Linked DNA regions of Homo sapiens: region 2 is linked to region 1. The links come from fine-mapping of genetic effects on gene expression. A gene starts in region 1. The other region holds a variant in brackets. All regions are shown on one strand. Distances are between the middles of the regions. Region 1 holds the start of TSPAN14 (tetraspanin 14). Region 2 overlaps TSPAN14 (tetraspanin 14).

What was found. PIP is the estimated chance that this variant, and not a neighbour inherited with it, causes the effect.
Region 2: its variant is fine-mapped to the expression of TSPAN14 in whole blood (GTEx, PIP 0.96).

What each region holds. Positions count from the first base shown.
Region 1 is chr10:80,448,669-80,459,053 of GRCh38, forward strand. TSPAN14 (tetraspanin 14) reads left to right here and starts at 5,642. Exons shown (of 9, transcript NM_030927.4): 1 at 5,642-5,703. RefSeq lists silencers at 925-1,219, 5,238-6,287 and enhancers at 4,998-5,207, 5,951-6,468, 6,418-6,677, 6,708-6,757, 9,475-9,554.
Region 2 is chr10:80,496,552-80,506,936 of GRCh38, forward strand. TSPAN14 (tetraspanin 14) reads left to right here. Exons shown (of 9, transcript NM_030927.4): 3 at 8,177-8,227. Among named protein-coding and RNA genes, the nearest start is that of TSPAN14-AS1, 34 kb to the right of the region's middle. RefSeq lists an enhancer at 803-1,766 and a silencer at 3,282-3,576. The variant G/T (reference allele first, on the strand shown) is at 6,100.

The DNA.
Region 1 (10,385 bases):
GACTGCTAAAAATGATGATGTTGGCCCTGCACACACCACTACCCCTTCTTCTGCATAGGCCTTGCCCTACTGATCATAGGCATGGGCATGTGACCCAGACCTAGTCCAATTACGATATCTCATCTCCCTCATCACGCTGGTTGTGTCAGAGTTTGTTTGGCTCTCTCAAGCCACTCCATGTTGCTGTAAGAATGGGTCCAGGAGTGAATATGTGACCAGAGCTGACCCAATTAGGATCCTTTTCTTTTCTTTTTTCTTTTTTTTTTTGAGATGGAGTCTTCCTCTGTCGCCCAGGCTGGAGTGCAATGGCACAATCTCAGCTCACTGCAACCTCCATCTCCCCTGTTCAAGCACGATTCTCTCACCTCTGCCTCCTGAGTAGCTGGAACTACAGGCATGCGCCACCACACCCAGCTAATTTTCCTACTTTTAGTACAGACGAGGTTTCACCACGTTGGCCAGGCTGGTCCGAAACTCCTGACCTCAAGTGATCCGCCCGCCTTGGCCTCCCAAAGTGCTGGGATTACAGGCATGAGCCACTATGCCCGGTCGATCCTTTCTTGAGATTTGTTCATACCGACTTAAGAGTGTAGACTTACTCAGTCACATACCTGACATGGCAAACTCTGAGAACTAGGAGAAACAGAGGGTAGGGCCCCCGTTCTGGGACGTTGTCAGGATCAGCCCCGTTTTGTGTCACTCTGGTTTCAAGTTCTTCTTTCAATTCTGTGAGCAATCTGAGGCTCCTTCCAGTATCTCCCCTTTGATGACCTAAGCTAGTCTGAGTGGGGTTCTCATTTCCAGCCAAAATGTCCCGACTAATCCTTGGTAGTCTGGTCCTAATAAGACATCTTTCCTGGGTAACAGAGTTCTTTACAGCTTACCCAGTATTTTTCGAAGTTTTACAAACTTTATCTCTTTGGATTTTTATTACAAGCTTGTGAGGTGGGTTTTAGTATTACCTTGACTTTACAGATAAGAACAGCAGGGCTCAGGAATGTAAAGTGGTTTGCTCAAGATCATGTTGAGAACTAGGAGAGCTTGGACACCAACTCCCTCTTCTGTTCAATCTCACCCTGACCTGCCCATTGCCCTGTAAACACACACAGAGGCTGCAGAGTGGAGCCCAGGGTGGGAGTGCAGCACTGGGGACCGACACAGAGGGCTATAGAAGTCAGGGGAAGACAAAGGGCAAGCTCTTCCACTTACAATTTTATCTGTGGCAGCTTCAGGTCCAGGAAAAAGATAAGAAACTCTCAGCTTTTTTCTTTTCCTCCTTCCTATACTGTTTTTTGTTCCCACAGTCCATACATTAGGCTTGCAGTCTGCACTACAATTCAGTTATATGCTTGGCAATTATGGTTCTAGGTGCTAGCCAGGAAGGTAAACCACTGGTTACAATACAACCCTTTTATGAGTTGGGGCTGTCTATATTGAATTTTTTATTTTTTAATAAAGGAGAATAAAATAGACCTGTTTTGCATTTCGTGTCTCTGAGGCTCTCTCAAGCCACTCCATGTTGCTGTAAGAATGGATCAGATAGGCCAGGCACAGTGGCTCACGCCTGTAATCCCAGCACTTTGGGAAGCCAAGGTGGGCAGGTCATGAGGTCAGGAGTTCAAGACCAGCCTGGCCAACATAGCGAAACCCCACCTCTAATAAAAATACAAAAAATTAGCTGGGTGTGGTGGCACGTGCCTATAGTCCCATGAATCCAGGAGGCAGAGGTTGCAGTGAGCCCACGCCATTGTACTCCAGCCTGGGTGACACAGTGAGACTCCGTCTCAAAGGAAAAAAAAAAGAATGGGTCAGATAAAGCTCTGTGGGTCTCTGCTACAGCTGGGAATGGCAGGTGAGTGTCAGATGTGACTGTCTGGGGCATGGCAGGGAAGGCCATGCTGGCTTTGTGGGTATTCCCACCACACTTTTCATAGCAGCAGTGTGGCCAACTATTCCAGAAAGGACACATCTCCCAGACGCTGCTCAGGCCAGCAAGATCTCCAAAACCGCTCAGTCCATGGTTTGCAAAACTGGCTTCCCCATCTCCTTCCTCCTTGTTCTAGCTCATGACCTCCTGCACATGCAGGATTGAGCAGAAATCACCAGGTGTGAGTAATCATCTTCCCAATCCCAGCCTTTACCGGAAACCTCTCCTCGGCCTCCACACTCCTCTCCTTAATGATGGTGGAGGCGTCCCTTTGTAGGAGGTGACCCTCGTTAGTGCCTATACCCTATCTCCTTTCACCTGCTCTTCCTATCATGGCCCCTGCCTTCTTCTTAGATCATTCCTATCAGTGTGCAAGCCTGCTTCAGTGACTCCCATATTTTAACAAACCCCTCTTTATTCCAACAAATGTTAGAATTAGATGTGGCTACATGTGCCATAAAACAGAGGATTAAACAAGACAGAAATGTCCTTCTCCCATAAAGAAAGTCAAGAGGTAGTAGTCCAAATGTGTGGTGGCTCCCTACACATTAGCATCCACATTTATTCTCACTTCCACTAACATCCTCAACACTTTGGCTTCCACTTAAGATCCAATATGGATGCTTGAGCTCCAGCTATCTATTAATATATCCTAGTGGGCAGGAAAGAGTAAAGCACATGACTTCCCTTTAAAGCCAGTTTTGAATTTGCACATGGACTCCTACACTTACTTCCTATTGGGAGGAATGAAGTGTAGCTGCAAGAGAGGCTGAGAAACTTGCCTTTATTCTGGGAAGCCATGTGGCCAGACAGAATTAGAAATTCTATGAAGGGAAGAGAGAATTACTACTAGGGGCATCTAGCAATCTCTACCAAAGCATCCTATGCTTCCGTATCCTTTCTAGATCCCTCCCAGTTCTCCATTCCCTGTTAGACAAGTTGTGCAAATATGGTAGCTCTACCACAGCATGGCTTCCACCACTACTCCAGGAACACTGCCCTCATCATGTTCACCAATTGCCTTCATGTTGCCAGAGCCAACAGGTCCCAGTCCTCATCTTACCTGATCTCTAAGCAGTGTCTAACACAGCTGACAACTGCTTTCTGGAAACATTTTCTCAGTCTCTGGGATACTCCTGATTCTCCTTCTGCCTCCCCAGTCTCTTTTTCAGTCTTCTTGCCTGCTTTGGTTCCCCTGGGTCCCTCCTGAACTCTCTCCTCTTCTGCATCTACTCCCTCACCCTGTGTGTCCTTCTCAGATCCCGTGGCCTTGAGCATCTTTATGCTGATGTATCCCAAAGCCCCTCTCCCGCCCTGGCCTCTCTTCTGAGTTCCTAGTGATGAGATAACCCCGCTGGTTCTCTAACAGGCATCTGAAGCTCCATGTGGCTTGAACAGAATTCCTGATGTAACTCCCTGAGATGTGGTTCATGCTTTTTGATCCAATAAATGAAGCACTATCCACCCACTTACCCCAGCCAGAAACTTGAGTTATCTTTGGTTTCTCCATTTCCTGCCCCCATGTCCTTCCTATCAATGTGTCCTCTTAAGTCCAAAATAGCATCTCTCAACTACTCATCTTAGCATGACCACCACTTTGGTTCAAACCACCATCATCTTTGGCCTGGATTGTGGCAAGCCTAATTGGCTCCCTGCTTTTATTTTTGCCTGACACCCACACACAGCCTTAAATCAGAACATGTTAGTCTTCTGCATAAAACCCTTCCAAGGCTCAACAAAGTCTCCATTCTTTGACACAGCCCACAGGCCCTGCATGCTTTGGCCCCCACCCACCTTCTCACTCCATCCTGGGCCTCTTCCCCTAGGCTTAAAACTTCAGCCACACTGATTTTCTTTCAGTTCCCTGACCCATCCAGAACTTACCCTGAAAAGGCACCTACTGCTCTCAGCGAGGAATGTCTCTGCCCAACTTTTCCCAAGGCTAACTCCTTACTCTTTTGACTTCAATTTCAGCATCGCCTCCTCACTTTCCCTGACTGCTTCATCTAAGGTAGCTTTTATTCTCTATTCTAGCCCCTTGTTTTTGTCCCAGCCTTTACTTCAACTTGTGATTATGTATTTGTCTTCTCCACTAAAAATTAACTTTATTGGGCAAAAGGCCTCAGCTGTCTTGTTCACTGAAGTATCCCACCATGCACACAGGGCCTGGCATATTATCAGGCACTCAGACAAACACTCACTATCTGCTGAATGAATGGACAGGTTCCCAGGGAGTTTCCAGAGCTGCCTGGGCTGTCACAGACAGGTTGCATCCCTCTTAATTAAACAAACAAATAAAATTAGCCAGGCACCGTGGCTCATGCGTGTAATTCCAGCACTCTGGGAGGCAGAGGCGGAAGGATTGCTTAAGCCCAGGAATTTAAGACCATCACTGGCAACACAGCAAGATCTCGTCTCTACAAAAAAAAAAAAAAAAAAATTAGCTAGGTGTGGTGGCCTGCACCTGTGGTCCCAGCTACTTGGGGAAGCTGAGGCGGGAGGTCGAGGCTGCAGTGAGCCATGGTCATGCCACTGCACTCCAGCCTGGGTGACAAAGCGATACCTTAGCTCAAAAAACAACCCAAACAAACCTGGGAATGGACTGAACAGTCTCCATTTCAAGATTTCCTCCTTCCATTGGAATTAACCTGTTGGTTGCTTGTACTGGCATGTGGCAACCAGTCTTAGCCCAGTTTTAATAGATCCCTGTTTGGTGTTACTCAACAGAGAAGACCACTCGGCCCTCAGCCACCGAATAAGTTTAAGAAACAGAGGTGTGGCATGCTTCATTCTACAGGTAGGGAGGCTGAGGCTGGGGAGCCGCCCCTGGCTATCCCTGGAAACCCCTCTACCCCACAGGAATCGTCCCAGCCATCTCTTTAGCGTAAAGGTGAGGAACAAATCTCAGCCACGATCCAAAGAGGGGCGCCACCCCTGGCTGTCCCTGGAAACCCCCCTACACCACAAGAATCGTCCCAGCCACCTCTTTAGCGTAAAGGTTAGGAAGAAATCTCAGCCACGATCCAAAGAAAGCTTGGTATTTTTAGCACCAAGGCCAGAAGGAGCGTGTCCTTACTCCTTGGTTTACAAAGAAATAAAAACCTTTTCCCCATCCTTCTTTTGATTGAAGACTACCCCCGCCCCCAGGCTCCAAAGCCGGGCAGGAACGCCTCTTATCTCCACCACAGCCATTTTCCTAATCCTTCGCCCGCTCTCCACGGTCATCCCGTGTATCCCTCGAGACGCCGCCTCCCACAGCTCGTGCTTCTCCCAGGTTCGGCTCCGACAAGGCCAGAGCGGCGTCTGCGCAGCGCAACGGCTCAGAGCGCTCCCGGCGGCTACAAGTGCCCGGCCCCGGGCCAGGCCCGGCCTGCGCCGCGCACCCACTGGGAGGGCGCGGACCGGGGCCGCCCCAAGCCTCCGGCACCGCCCAGAGCGGGACAAAGGGGCGGGCCGGCGACCCGGCCTCGCGGTCCCCGGTGCCGCGCGGGCCGGGAGGCGGGGTGCGGTGGGGGAGGGGCGAGGCGGCTGGGGGAGGGGCGGGGCCAGGGCGGGCCCAGGCGCCCGGGGCCGCACCGGGCGGCGCAGGGAAGCGGCGCCCCTTCCTCGGCAGACGGCAGGCGCCGCGCCTCCGGCCCCGCCCCTCCGCGCCCCTCCGCGCCCCGCCCCCGCCGCTCGGACGGCCCGAGTCGCGCCCTCCCGCCCCGCGCCGCGGAACTTGCTCTAACTTCCTCGGCCGAGCCGGGCCGCGCCGCCGCTGCCGCCGCCGCGCGCGGGTGAGTAGAGCGCGGAGACCTGGCTGGGGCGTCGGGCCCTGCCCCTTTCTTTGTCTGAGGCCGACTTCCCCGAGCGTTCTCCGGGGGCGAGGGCTGCTCCTTAGGTCCCTGTTTGGCCCCTCAGCCTCCCTCCCCGCCTGCCCAGGAGCGGCCCCGCGGGCGGCGCTGGCTTTGTCTGCCAGGATTGCTCGCTAGAGGTTGGAGGCCTCCGCCGGGACCCCGCTGAGCCGAACTCCGGCGCCGCGCGGACGAGAGCCGCGGCGGGCCCGGGGCCGGCACTCCTGGTTCGGTAGCCCTCGCCCCATCAGCGCGCCCCGGCGAGTGCGCGCCCGTGCCGGGCGGGGTGAGGGCGACGGGAGCCTGGACGGCCGCTGCTGCTCGGGGCTCTGCTTCTCGTCCCCAGCAGCGAGCTCGGGGATGGGCCACCCTTTCGGCTCAGTCACCCACCCTCGGCTCCCAGGAGATCGGGTCCGGGGTGGGGGTGGGCGTAGGCCGGGGCGGGCCGCCCCTTCCTCCTGCCCCGCCGTGGTTGTGCTCAGTCTCCCACGCCGCCGTGGGTCCCACTCTGCCCGGCTTGGGTTTGGGACGGCCGGAGTTTGAGTAGGCGGTGACCCAGCTTCTCCGCGTTAGTCGTGTGGGGTTGTGTTTGGGAGCAAAGCCTGACCCCTGACCTAGCCGGAGTTCTGGTAGAGTGAGGTTTGTGGCTGCGGACTGTGCTTGTCCCGGGCCGCTGCTGCTTCTCCTCCACCCCCAGGGGTGGGGTGCGGGTGGGTAGGAAGTGCCTGTGTGAGGGTGTGTGGAGGGACTTTGGCCCTGGGACCGCAGGAGCACTTGTCTTGGGGACTTAAAGTTGATCTCCGGCGAGAAACAGTCCGTGCTAGGGGGAGTCGGGGGAAGTCGTGGGCCCGGGTACTGGCCTGGGGCTGGGCGCAGAGCGGTGGTGAGTGCGGCGGTGTCACACACTCGTTGGCTGTGCTGGCGCTGCTATCCGGGAGGTCAGGCGGTGCTGGGCGGCTGTGCAGAGCATTGTATTGGAGCCTCTGCAGGTGTGCTCTTGGCAGTGGTCTGCTCTCCAGGGGATCTTCCTCCCTTCCGAGAGGGAGTTGCTCTTGGGCTAGTGAGAGAGTGGCCTGCCAAATCCTCAAAAGTAGCCTTCCCCTTGCCCCTTGACCTTGAAGTCCAGAAGCAGTTAGTGCCTGCTGAGTGCTCCGGCCACCCTTCTCTATTTGTGAAGGGAAACCTGGGGACAGGCCATCGGAGCACCCCTATGTCCTTGCCACATTTCAGCTAGCCGAGTGGTTGGTGGGGGCGGCCGTCTTTCCAGGGATCTTCCTGGGCCCTGGCACCCCCAGAATGAAGCCCAGACTCCACCATAATGGCCCTGTATGCCCTTCTATCCCCTTAGCTGCTGGTGTGATCATAGCCTCAAATTGCTGGGCTCAAGTGATCCTCCCACCTCAGCCTCCCAAAGCACAGGGATTACAGGTGTGAGCCACCACGCGCAGTCTGATCCCACTCCGATCCCTAACGTTATAGTGACAGGCCCTGGAAACCCAGGGCCACCAGATGTATTTTCCCTTTCCTTCTCATTGTGTTGCACCCCAACTTCAGTTGGAGACTCTGGATATATCCATCCCCACATCTCTGAACTCCACTGCTTGGGCCACCTAATGTCATCCTCAGTTTAGTTAACAAAGCATGGTTGAGATTTCTGTGGGGTGCGAGGCATTGTTGCAGGCACTATTCCAAGTCTGGAAAGTCCCTCACCAGCTATGAACTTGGTGTGGTCTTAGAACCCAGGCTGGACATGGCATAGGTGCTCAGTAGTGTTTATTGATCTGAGCTTGATCTCAGCGTAGCAGGATCATTTAGGGAGACGGGGTTGTGGGGGGGGTCTGAGCCCATGGGTGCTTCTGAAGGTTTGTGGCTGCCCCAGGAAGAAAGGGCATGGAGCTGCAGAATGGTTGGCTGCCCAGGGAATTGTCCCCTTCACCAGCTGGGCAGCTGTGCTAGTCTCTGAGGACTGGTGAAGGTCCTTCTCATGTAGGAAGTGGCAGTATGAAGTGGGAGAGGAGATGGCTCTGCCCTGAAGGTTGTGGCGGCAGTGAAGTGAAGTTCCCATGGAGGCCGGGGAGCAGGAAAGCCCTGGGTTCTGGAACTATTTCCTGAGGCCTCACTCTATGCCACCATGTGCTCAGGAATTTGACCCATTTAACTTCAACTGAGGTAGAATTCCTTTTAGCAGTGCCTGCAAAGTGGCATTGTGCCAGGCCTGGGAAACCTTTGCTGGCTTAAAATTTAGTGAAGGACAAGATTATTTCATAGTGATACTAATGTGAGTTTATTGAGACTTACACCCTAGAAGTTTGACTTGTAATAACTCATTTAATCCTTGAAAACAGCTGTGATGGCTGGGCGTGATGGCTCATGCCTGTAATCCCAGCACTTTGGGAGGCCGAGGTGGGTGGATCACCTGAGGTCAGGAGTTCAAGACCAGCCTGACCAACACGGTGAAACCCTGTCTCTACGAAAAATACAAAATTAGCTGGGCGTGGTGGCACATGCCTATAATCCCAGCTACTTGGGAGGCTGAGGCAGGAGAATTGCTTCAATCTGGGAGGTGGAGGTTGCAGTGAGCTGAGATCGCGCCGTTGCACTCCAGCCTGGGCAACAAGAATGAAACTCCATCTCAAAAAACAAAAAACAAAAAGCAAAACAACCGTGATGTCAACAGCTCCATTTTACAGATGAGGAAACTGTGGTCCCGAGAGGTCACAGAGTAACTTGCTTGAAGTCTCAATATGAGCTGGGTTTTCTCATTTCTTTTTTTTTGATACTGAGTCTCACTCTATTGCCCAGGCTGGAGTGCAGTGGCGTGATCTCGGCTCACTGCAACCTCCGCCTCCTGGGTTCAAGTGATTCTTCTCCTGCCTCAGCCTCCCAAGTAGCTTGGACTACAGGTGTGCACCACCACACCCAGCTAATTTTTGTATTTTTAGTAGAGATGGGGTTTCACCATGTTGGCCAGGCTGGTCTTGAACTCCTGACCTCAAGTGATCCGCCCGCCTCGGCCTCCCAAAGTGCTGGGATTACAGGCGTGAGCCACTGTGCCGGACCAGGTTTTCTCATTTCTAATTTAGACAATATGTTCCTCTCAGAGGTGATTAAAATGGATTCATATACCAAACAAGCCTGGCCCACAGTGGAACTAATGAATGTTTTCAGTGAAGGTGCCCTTGTATCCCTGCCTCTGAACACATCTCATCTGTCCAGCACAGCCTGGGCACATAGCAGGTACCCCGGAACCCCCGCTGATTGGTGATGGAGCTTCTGTCTCCCTAAGGCCAGGGAATGGGAAGACCAGCACTACCACATGCAGAAGATTGGGGAGTCACTGCTTGTGTCTGTCTGGACAGATCACGGTTTGCTGTGGTAACAGCAATCCCCAGGTCTCAGAGGCTTAAAGCAACAGAGGTTTATTTCTTGTTCACACTGCATGTTCATCACTTATCTGCTTTATGTTGTCCTCACTGGGGGGACCCATAGTGATTAGTGGGAACACCCCTGGTGGCTTGGACAGAGGGACAGAGAACATGATGATCCCTGTGTCCTGCCACTGAGTCCTGGTGGCCTTTAAGATGCCTATGGGAAGGGGATTAGGTTCCTGCTGCCTGTCTCTGCCCTGCCGTGTCAGTCCTTGGATATCTTGCATGTTCCATCCGCTACCTGGATGTGGCCTGTAGGGGCAGCCACCTTTCCTAGAAGCAGGAGCAGGTAGCGATACCCAGGCAGGCCTGGTCCTCCCCACTTTTGTGGGACTCGGGGATTGAGCTTGCAGGCATAGGGGTGTAGAAAGCAGTGGTAGCGAGGTGACTGAAGGTGGACTCCCACTGGGGATGGGATTGAGTGTGGGGCTAGATCCCTGGTCTGTAGAAGGGAGTAGGAACCCTGTTAGTTAAATTTTCCCCCTCAGGCCACGTTAGTAGGATTTTGAAGAGTCAGCCACACTGTGGCTCTTGATTTTGTGCCTGGTCACCTGCTTGGTCTCTGGTGATTTCCCTCGGGGCCAGCAGACACTGTTGGAGGTGGTGAGGCCTCAGGTTCTTCTGCTTCATGGTTAACTCACTCTGCTTAGGCATATTTCCACCTTTTCCAGGGCCTCCGTTTTTCTGCCAGTGGATTGAGAGGTGGTGGTGGTCTCCAGCAGTGGTCTCACTCTTGGCAGGCTATCAGAGTACCCAGGGAGCTGCGTAGAATGAAGTTTTGAGAGTCTTTGGTCTAGGTGAATGCCAGCGTTTCAGTTTGCTTATCTTCCATTATAGTAGTGTCCTCTGTAACTGTGAATCAGGGAGGTTATTCATAATATCTCCACATCCATTTTCTCCCTTAATTGCGTATGCTTTTGATTTAGACAGGGCAAGTAGCCATTTTGGTGGAGCGCAGGCCCTGGCAGGGGGGCAGTGTCCAGTGCCGCTCTCAATTAAACGTGAAGATGTGAAGATGAATAACACTGTCCAGCTTGCAGAGTGGACGGTGGTGAGGCAAGCTTTCAAGTTGCACCTACTTTCTAGTTGAGTGACCTACACAAGTCTTTGATTTTTTTTTTTTTTCTTCCTGGAAAAAAAAAGTTGTCTACTTTTCTCATCTGTAAAGTGAGAAGAATCAAGTCTGCCTTTTCTGTC
Region 2 (10,385 bases), 48 kb after region 1:
TTAGCCATTATGTTTTCAAACGCACACCCTTTTTCTCCCCTTCCCTGTCCCATTTCCCTAGGACATTGTTTATCTAGGGCACAGAGGCTCGGTTTAGTTTTTTATTTTGTTGAGTGTTTTACCATTCTCCTTTAGTTTCCATAGCTTTGTCTTCAGCTTTACTGATCTTTTCTTCCATACTGTCTCATTGGCTGTTAAACCCATCTAGTGAAGTCTTCAATTCTAATATTGTAGTTTCTATTTCTAGTCGTTACATTTAGGTATTTTTTATGTCTCCAATTTCTTTCCTTATCTTATTTATATTTTCCTTTAAATTCCTGAACATATTTGCAATACTTGTTTTGAAGTTGTTGGGATTTCATCTTCTTTGTCATTCTTGTGTCTTCTATTTACTGAATTTTTTCTCTTATAGCTCACTTCTTTCCTTTTCTTGCCTATCTAGTAACTTTTGATTGGATATTAGTTATAGTTTTTCTACTAAGTATTCTTCCCTAACAGTATTAAGTCTTTTGTGTCTGACATCTTTCATTTAATATCATATGTGAGATTCATTCATGCAGTTATACGTAGTTGTAGATCATTTATTCTTGTTGTGTAATATTCTATTGTGGGGATATATAATTTGTGTTATTTACAGTTTTAGGCTATTAAGACCTGTTACAGTGATATAAAAACATACCAGTGTTGGAGACCTGAGTATAGGGTATCCCAGGCTTTGTGTGGCTGAGCAGGATGACATCCCATCTTTCCTCTCCAGGTCCAGATGGTTTTAGTGTGATAGTTTACAGCTGAGCTTTTCAGACTATGGCTTGCAGGCCAAACCTGGCCTTCCGCCTGTTTTTACACATACAATTTTATTGGAACACAGCCACACCCATTCATTTATGTATTATCTATGGCTGCTTTCCCATTATAACAGCAGAGTTGAGTAATTGCTACGGGGATCATCCAGCACACAAAGCTGAAAATATTTACTATTTGGCCCTTTACAGAAATGCTGACCACTGCCTTAGTATCTTGATTTTCTACCCACTGTTAATCACTGTGAACTGTGCCAAAGTTAGGTTGGGGGGTTCCCTCTCTCCTGGGGGTACTGCCTATCACCTCCCTTGAATGGCTGTGCTCCCTCCGCCTGCCTTCATTTCCAGGGCCTTGACTCAGGTTCCTGGGCGGGGCTCAGTGGGGGTCAACTCTGTTATCTGGCAACACAGAGACAGCTGTGGAAGCTGCCCCTGGAGCCCTCTGCACAGTCCTTCCCCACATTGGGGCCCTCACATGGGTTTGCTGGCTCTGCTGGGAGGGCACATGTGTTGCCTTTTCTCAGAACCACCCTTCCGGCAGGAGGAAAAGCTGGGGTGTGATAGCTATGTGACCCCATGCAAGGCACCTCCTGCTCTGGGCTCTGTTTCCCTCTGTCATAAGGAAGCCGAGCCCTAGCATCCCTTCTGGCTCCCAGACCTTCCGAACTCCCACTGACAAGTGGCTTGGTTCAGGCTTTCAACACAGGACAGATAACTGCAGCTCCTCCCTTGGCCCACTGGGCTCTCAGGCCAGGTTGGGTCTGGGGTCTGCACCCTCTGGTCCTTTTTGGCTTCAAATTCTATTCAATCGTCAGCATTTCAAGTGGCCACAAGCATCTCTGTTGTTTCCTGAATGCCCCAGGCCTGGATTCAGGATTTCTTATTCTGGAGAGTACCAGGACCCTGGGGTTTCCGTCTGGTGTAATTTATAATGGCAAAACTCAGCCAGTGGGAGGTGCATGGGTCCTTGCTGCTTATTTTGCTGATTGACAGACTGAGGCCCAGGAGAGGGATGGCTTCCTCGAGACCCTGACTCTGTGAGTTAGGGACAAAGCTGAGACTCAGTCCTGGCTTCCTCCACTCTCTGCTGTTTTCTTTCCATCATCCTTTCCTACCTCACTTGAAAAGCCTCCAGAAGGCCGTATTTCCCTAAGCTCTGCTTCACTGTTGTCTCCAGAAGCCCAGTAAAACAGGTGCCTCTGGAAAGCACTTGGTCTTAGGACAGAAGCTGGTGCTGGAAGTAATTGGGGGTGGGGTACAGAACACCAGTGTCAAGAGAAGGAGACTCTGTCTTCAGGACAGCAGATGCTTGTGGCATATCCTTGAACGCCCCTCACATCTCTGCTCTGTCTGCCGTGCGGGAGGGCATGGCCACCTTGAGACTGGCTCTGTGCCTGGAGTAAGCATGTCACGTAGGATCTTCCTTCAATCTTTACAACCTTCCTGTGACCTAGGAAAGATAATCCCTGTTTTGTAGAGAACATAGGCTCAGAGAAGGTCTTGGACTCGCATGAGGCCCTGTCACTAGGTAGCTACAAAGCAGAGACTGGACCCAGGGCCGGCTTTGTTCAGGGGAAGAGGCTCTGTGAATGTCAGGCTGAGTCAGCGTGTGGATTGTGCAAGACCCGGAGGCCAGCAGGGCAGAGCCTGAGAGCATCGCCTGCTGCTGGTGATTCGCCTTGATCTTGCTGAGGAAAGGCCTCTGGGGCCTGCAGGAGTTGCCAAGTACTTTTATACACGCTTAAATGAAATCTTGCAAGGAGCCAAGGCCATTAAATCATGGGTGAGAGGCTGCCTTTGACCTGCTTGGAGCTGCATCTTTCTCCTCCAGTTCAGCAGGGCCTGGCCGGGTGTCACTTCCTTTTGTGACTTGATTGTGCTTGGGTAAAGTACCACAAGCTTGCTCGTGTGGTAAGTGGATTTCTTGTGTCTGGACTCTGGCTGGACCAGCCCAGAGTGCCCCAAGAGGACCTCCTGCCTTTCGCAAGGTCATTTGCCTAAGGTGAAAGGTCAATATTTAATCTTCACAGTGACCCACAAAGAGGCCCTGCTGCCTTGTCCACCTGCCCTGGTTGGGACACAGCGTGGTCTCACTGCCTGACAGTGTGGGTCATTTGGCTGTAGAGCTGCACAACCCCAAAGCCCCCCTGTGGAATTCCTACATCCCCGGGCTCTTGTGTGAGTGCCCGTGTGTGGAAGGCAGCTGCTCTGTGGGTGGTAAGATACTGTGTTGCCAGGGTCAGAGGCATCCAGGTTTGGTTCTTAAGTCTGCCACCAGCTAGCCGTGTGACCTTGGGCAAAGGACCAAATTGCTCTACATTTGAGCTTTCCCATGTGAAAAATGAGGGTAATTGAGCCAGAGTTATGGGATATGGAGGGATAGCCTTAGGTCCATTAAGTATTTAATGCAGCGCACAGCTCCCAGGAAAGGGCAGCTATTCACAGTGACCATAGCAGTTTAGGTGCTCGCTGGTCCAGCAGAGGAGGCTGGCCTCTCCTCAAGCTGGGCCGGAGCTGGGCCCCGTTCTTCAGTAGGTAATTCAATTAGGTCATGGGAGGGAGACAAAGAAGGTCACTTGAGGCTGGAGGGCACTCAGCTGAACCCTCACTCCCAGAAGATTGGCAGCCAGGGCTCACAGCAGCCAGGGCTTACCTGGCCTGGCCCCATGGACCATCTGCTGCAGAGTTCCAGGGAAGGGTTCCGTGGGGTGAAGCGGGCCAATGACCCAGTTCATTCATGGGACCGTTATGTGAGCTCTCAGGCAGATCACTTCCCCTGTCTAGTCCTCCCTCAATCTCCTGGTCTCTGAAACCAGGTTTGTTGGTACTCAGAGTTCCTGCCCTGGGCCACTGTTCATTGAACCCATGATCTGACATGTGATCCCCAAGTTCCTGTCTTTCCGGTGTGAGTTAACTTTAGTTCTTCCTTTAAAACAGAATGAAAACAACACAAGGCCTTATTCTTTTTTTTTTTTTTTTTTTTTTTTTTTTTTTTGAGACGAAGTTTTGCTCTTGCTGCCCAGGCTGGAGTGCAATGGCGTGATCTTGGCTCACCGCAACCTCCACCTCCCAGGTTCAAGTGATTCTCTTGCCTCAGCCTCCTGAGTAGCTGGGATTATAGGCATGTGCCACCACGCTCGGCTAATTTTTTATTTTTAGTAGAGATGGGGTTTCTCCATGTTGGTGAGGCCGGTCTCAAACTCTTGACCTCAGGTGATCCGCCTCCCAAAGTGCTGGGCCTCCCAGCACTCGGCCTCCCAAAGTGCCGAGATTTCAGGCATGAGCTACCACGCCTGGCCAAGTCCTTATTCTTAGAGCTGAGAGAAAGAGAACTGCACGCAGTGGTGGGGAGCTGGCTTCCCCAGTAAACACAGAGTCAGCCAGGGCTTTCCCTGGGGGCCTTGAGAAGAACAGCAAGCGAGGGAGGGTGTGGTCTGTGGGCCATATGCAGAGCGGTAAGCGGCCCTACAGCGGCCCTGCATGTGGGGAAGGGGCGATTGGAACAGAGGTGAGCAGGAGCAGGCCTACCTTTGCATGGGCACTGTGCCCCTGAGGGTGGGGATATGAACTGCTCTTGAGGTCGAGGGTCTTTTTTGAGAACTTGTGCAGACCAAAATTCCTTTTGTGAAACCAGTCACCTCTTCCTATTGTATCTATTTAGTCACTATTTAGTCACCTAGGAGAACAAAACAACTAAAACAGCACCTCAGCGTGAATTCACAGAAACCTATTAATATAGATGGAACTGACGCTGTTTTTTTTTTTTTTCTTTTTTTTTGGGAGACCTGGTCTTACTCTGTTACCACCCAGGCTGGAGTGCAGTGGTGCAATCTCACCCTTGACCTCCCAAGTTCAAGCAGTCCTCCCACCTCGGCCTCCCTGGTAGCTGGGAATACAGGCATTTTTTTTTTTACAGCTAATTTTTTTAGAAAACCTTTTTTTTTTTTTTTTTTTTAAGAGATGGGGGTCTTGCTATGTTGCCCAGGCTGGTCTTGAACGCCTGGGCTCAAGCAATCCTCCTGCCTCAGCCTCCCAAATTGCTGTGAGCCACTGTTCTCAGCCTGAGGCTGGTATTAATGTGGGAAACAATACCCTTAGAAGTCAGACTTAGTAGTCAAGGTGAGAGAAGGGGTGAGCTGTGAAGTGCAGTGTGGAGGAGAGAGGGGAGCTCCAGCAGTGGTTTTGTTGAGTGTCCTTAAGGTAGACTTTTCTCACCTGTCCCATGTGGCCCCACAGGATGAGCGGACTGTCATGGAAAGCTGTTAGGCAGGGGCTGGAATGTCTGTTGGGAATGCTGGATGGGGCATCGGCCTCTGGGCTTGTTCTGCTCTGACCATAGGCAAATGCCCCTGTATAGAGCTTGACCCATGCACCTGGGCCAGGCTGAGCTTTTCTTGGCCCACATTTGCTCTGAATGCCTTTGGATTGAATCACACCCAGAAGTGTGCCTGGGGGTAGCTAGAAGGACCCAGGCAAGCACTGTCCTGGTCTTGAATCCTGGGGAGTCACTCATGCCTGCTCTGTGCCTACTGAGGGCCAAGCCCTCCTCGTTGTTGGGCTGCAACTCTGAACAAAACAGGTAACATCTCTGGCCTCAGAAGGGCTTAGCTGGGGAGACACAATAGAGAGACAGCCCCTGTGGTCTGGGATCAGTGCCGCGAAGAAAATCAACAGAGGAGGTCACACATGGAGGATGGGGAGCAGTTCCACTCAGGGTGGTAAAAGGAGGCCTTGAACGCAGTGAGGGAGGAGCCAGGAATGGATATGGAGGAAGAGCATTGCCGGCTGAGGGAACAGTGTCCAGGCTCTGAGGCAGGGGTGATTTTGATGACTTCAAGAAACAAGAATGTCAGGGTGGCCCAGGGAGTGGCGTTGGAGCAGGGAGGTGGGAAGGAGATGCCGTGGGAGATGTGTGTGAAGCCTGGCTGCAGAGGCCCTTGGGGGCCATGGGAGAGACCGTGCATTTTCTTCTAGGTCTGCGTGGGAAGTCACTGCAGAGTTTCGAGGAGGGGAGTTCCCAGCTCTGTATTTTTGAAGGGTCAGTCTTGTTGCTTGGACCAGTGAGGAGCCCCGTGGGATCCAGACTCGAGTGGGTGGAGCCGGGGCAGGTGGGAGCAGAGACACTGGAGGAAAGCTGGTCGAATGCACTGTGTATTTGGAGGCAGAACCAGCAGAGGGTCCTCTGGGTTGAGTGTAGGGCAAAAGAGAAAGAAGGCACCAAGCCTGGGGTCTGGGTTTTCTCTCTTACACTTGCTGGGTGGACGGTGGTGCCACTGAATGAGACGGAGAAGAGTTGGGG[G/T]GAGCTCGGTTGGGGTTGGGGGACCAAGGCTGCGTAGTGGGGCACAGTAAGAGTAAAATATCGTTAGCTGTCTTAGGAGGACAAGTAAAGTAGACATTAGGGTATTTGACCGGGGGCATGGCCAGGACTGGACATCTGAGTGTGTCACTCAGCAATGTTTAGATGGTATTTAAGCCTTGTGAATTATGAGATCATCGAGAGGGCTCAGGGCAGGGTGAAGGAGCTAGGACTGTGAGTGAGGCCCACCAGCATCTAGAGGGGTCTGAAGGAGGAGGAGGAGGAAGAGCAGGGAGGAAGGCAGTCAGGGGCATATGCTTGGGGTCCCCGAAGCAGGGTGTGTCAGTGGAATGGTTGGAGGAGGAGAGAATGACCAGCTGTGACCAATGAGGTCAGATACCATGAGGAAAAGTCTTGGCCTCCAGCTTTGGCAAGAGGGAGGCAGGTCCCTGGGGGCCTTGAATAAGATGGGTGGGGATGGAGCCTGCAGGATTCGGCAGGTGGTGACCAGTCACCTTCAGGTTGCTCAGCATGCCAGTGTAAGACACCTGGGGAGGGAAAGGAAGCGGTCATGCATTCTATCAGGAAAACCCTTCCCAGCTAGTCAGTTCAGGGGGAGGACTGAGAAGCGGGAAAAGGGTGTGGTGTGATATGGTAGAAAGGGCTCTACCCCCTTGGCTTGGTGCTGTATCCAGTACTTGAGACGGTATCTGGCACTCGGGATGTACTCCGTGAATATTTGTTGAATGAATGAGTGAGGAGTGAATGAATGAACTGAGACTTGTGATTCAGCCCTTCTCCCCACTGCCTGACATTTTGGTCTTGGCCCTCCCTGGGCCCCAGTGCTCTGCTTTTGTAAAATGGAGGGATTGGTTCTTGGTGGGGGTTCTTTACTTAGTGTTCACAGACCATTGTGGGAGCCAGCAGTGGGAAGCTGTGACCCCTCTAAAATTTCATGCAAAATACTGGGCATGTGTGCATTTTCTGAAAGTGATCTGTGATCCAGAAGAGGTTGGATCACAGATCACTTTCAGGTTGGATGAGACTTCCTGGGGCTTTCCTTGAGCCCTTTCTTTCCATTCTAGCCCCTGGGGCTAGTTACTGAGTAAAATAGGTAGAAGTGGCTCAAGGCTTGAGATCACCGGTAGTCATAGAGAAGCGTGGTCCTGTTATTTATCGTGAGATGGTGATAAATGGCAGTGAAATGCCAGTGTGGTGTAAAGTAGTCACAGAAAAACAGGAGGCAGCTTTATTAACAGAGCCCACGTTGTGTTTTGTTGTATATGGAAAAGCCCTCCCTGGTTCAGGAACCTGTGTGATGTATTTGGGTGGGCGCCTTTCTGTTGTGGTGCACATGGGGTATGGGTTCCTGCAGGTGGGAAGTTGGGGTTGGGGGTGGTGCTCCTCTGGGGCGAGCTCATTGCTTAGAGCAAGCCTATTTTCATTCTCTAGCTAAAAGCCCAGCCTTTCCTGAGCATAGATGCGCCCCCTGCTCATTGTAGTTAACAGTAGGGAGGAGGCTCAGCCCTGGCCAGTGAATGGCCTGGGCCACTGGATAGCTGCTTATCTGTGCCTGGAGTCTATCTCCAGGGCTGGAGAGCTGGGGTGTGTGGCAGAGATGCTGGGCTGTTTCCCCCTGTCCTCACCCTGTGGTGGTGCCTGGTCCTATGCAGTCTCATCCTGTGTTGGGAACCTCTGAGGGGACCTGGGTCAGCCCTCCCAAGGGGTGATGTCTTCGTATACACCAGATAGTGCACTGAAATGAGTTCAGGGTTGCAGAAAGGGGAAGAAGCAGCACAGCCTGATGTCTGTGACCCATAGTCTCTCCAGGGTGGAGTCCGCTCTGAGATCTTTTCCTCTTCCTTCCCTGGGGCATAGGGTCATCTGAGGTTGAAGGAGTTTGTCCAGATATTCAGGAAGGTAGGTTCAGGTTATCTGTCATCTGCGGGGCCTGAGGGGCCATGTGGGATGTGAGCTAGGAGCATGCCCTACCTGGCAGTGTGGACTTTGCTCTGTGAAGCATGTTCACAGTGCTGGTTTCCAACCTAACTTCCTTCTCTCTTTCCTCTGCCCCGCTTAGTTGGCTGGAGTTGTCTTCCTTGGAGTCGGGCTGTGGGCATGGAGCGAAAAGGTAGGTGTAACTGTCGCAGGACACTGAGCTTCAGGCAGCCAAAACCAGATTCGTTGGACTTCATTTTCCCTCCTCCAATCTGTTCCCTGACAACAAGCATTTCTTGTGCAGTGTCAAGGTGTATAATTGTCAATCTTTACAGACACAGCTCTTGCGTACTCTGCCCACATGATAGTATTGGCTGCTGGAGGTATGGGCTGGGCTGGTTGGGTTTTGAGCCCTGTGGATGTGGAGAGCTCAGCTCTTGTATGCAGCTGTGCCCAGAGCAGGCTTGGGCAATCCAGCTTCCTGACCCTGTCTGTGCCTCTGGGAGCAAGCGGGCAGGTCCCTGAATACAGGCATGCTTATTGTGGAAGCCCTTATCCTCCAGGATGAGAAAGAGCAGGCAGCAGGGAGCGGGGCTGGGTGACATGCCCCCAGGGTGCCCTGTGGGGCAGGGGTGGGCCTTTAAGCACCTCTGGGCCTCCTTGCCCAGCCTCAGGAGGAGAGGGGAGGAGTGGAGACCTGGCTCCTACTGTCGGGAAGGACATGGTGCAGTTGCGGCTCCAGGAAGGGGATGAGACTGGATATGGGCAGGGTGGGGCTGTGCTGCTGCTTGTTGCCCTGTGGCAGGGGTGCTGGGGAGGCAGTGAGGGCTGAAAAAGGCCAGGGAGGGAAGAGGGGAGGGGAGGGAAGCAGTAAGGTGGAGCAGGCCTGGCCAGAAAGAGCCAGGAATAAAGCTTCCTCTAGTGTCTTGAGCCTAGGCCTTCTTCCTTCAGTGGAACCTCCCTTTGCTTCCAGCAGGAGGAGGCAGGAGAACCTAGGTCTACAGGCTTTCCTGCCATGGTCTTAGGGACTGGATAAGGCCCACCTTCAGGTTTGGGCACCTTCCAAGTGGCCTGTGAACCCCTAAAGGGCAAGAGCTGGGGTACGATGTCCCTTTGCCCCAGTGACCCAGAAGCAGGTTCAATCTGTGCCTCACAGCACCACCGTGTGGCTTCCCCTGGGACTGCAGCCGCCTAACTGGGTGTGGCCCTGAGTGTGGAGCTGGCTACTACAATTCCTTTGAATCTGTCGATCTAAAATAAGTGAAAAGGCCAGAACCTAGTTTAGAGAGAGTTTATTCAAGCACACATGTTGAGGACAGGCCTACCCAGGAAGCACAAATTCCAAAGAATGGAAGTCAGCCTTCCTGTTCGAAATGTAGGAGCTTGGGATCATTTATCCAGCCAAAGCCAGACAGAGACTCTGTTGCCCAGGCCGGAGCGCAGTGGCTGGATCTTGGCTCACTGCAACCTCCGCCTCCCTGGTTCAAGAGATTCTTGTGCCTCACCCTCCCAAATAGCTGGGATTACAGGCATGTGCCACCATGCCTGGCTAATTTTTGTATTTTTAGGTAGAGATGGGGTTTTGCCATGTTGGCCAGGCAGGTCTTGAGCTCCTGGCCTCAAGTGATCTGCCCTCCTCGGCCTCCCAAAGTGCTGGGATTACAGACGTGAGCCGCCATGCCCAGACACCTATGTATGTCTTGATGCTTAGTCACAATGTTCTGATTAGTTGAGGCGGTCTTTTTCTTTCAGGAAAGGTATGTTTAACATTCCACACTGAAGATGTAATTGTCCCTGGGTCTTAGATGATATCTGATCTGAGTTAGTAAAGAACAATGAAGGAAGCAGTTAAACTATAACAGAGATCAGTGACTGGAAGGGGGGCTGTGGTCTCTCCGGTCCCTTAGTTCAACCATAATCTAAGAAACAGAATTGCAAACATGCTACATGACTCAGTCTCCAGGGCTTAGCTTCCCCCTTGGCGTTTTACAAACCCTATGGAACTGCTCTGCCCATTGTGTGACTGTGTTTATATTTAAATTGAAATTGAATATAAATTAAAATTCAGTCCTTCTGTCTCATTAGCCACATTTCAAGTGCTCCACGATACCTGTGGCCAGACAGTGGGGGTATAGTCTAAAACACCTCCATTGGTGTAGAAACTTCTATGGACAGCATTGCTTTGGCCTGCCCTTGGGCGTGTTTTCTACTAGAGTGTTCATATTGAGGCTGTTTTCATCTCAGAAGAGTAGTGTTCTTCATTAATTAGGTGCCAAATTGGGGGACTAACAAGGTCAGCCACCTGGGTGACCAGTTTGACCACAGGCCACAGGGCCCCGTTTCCCTCCAGG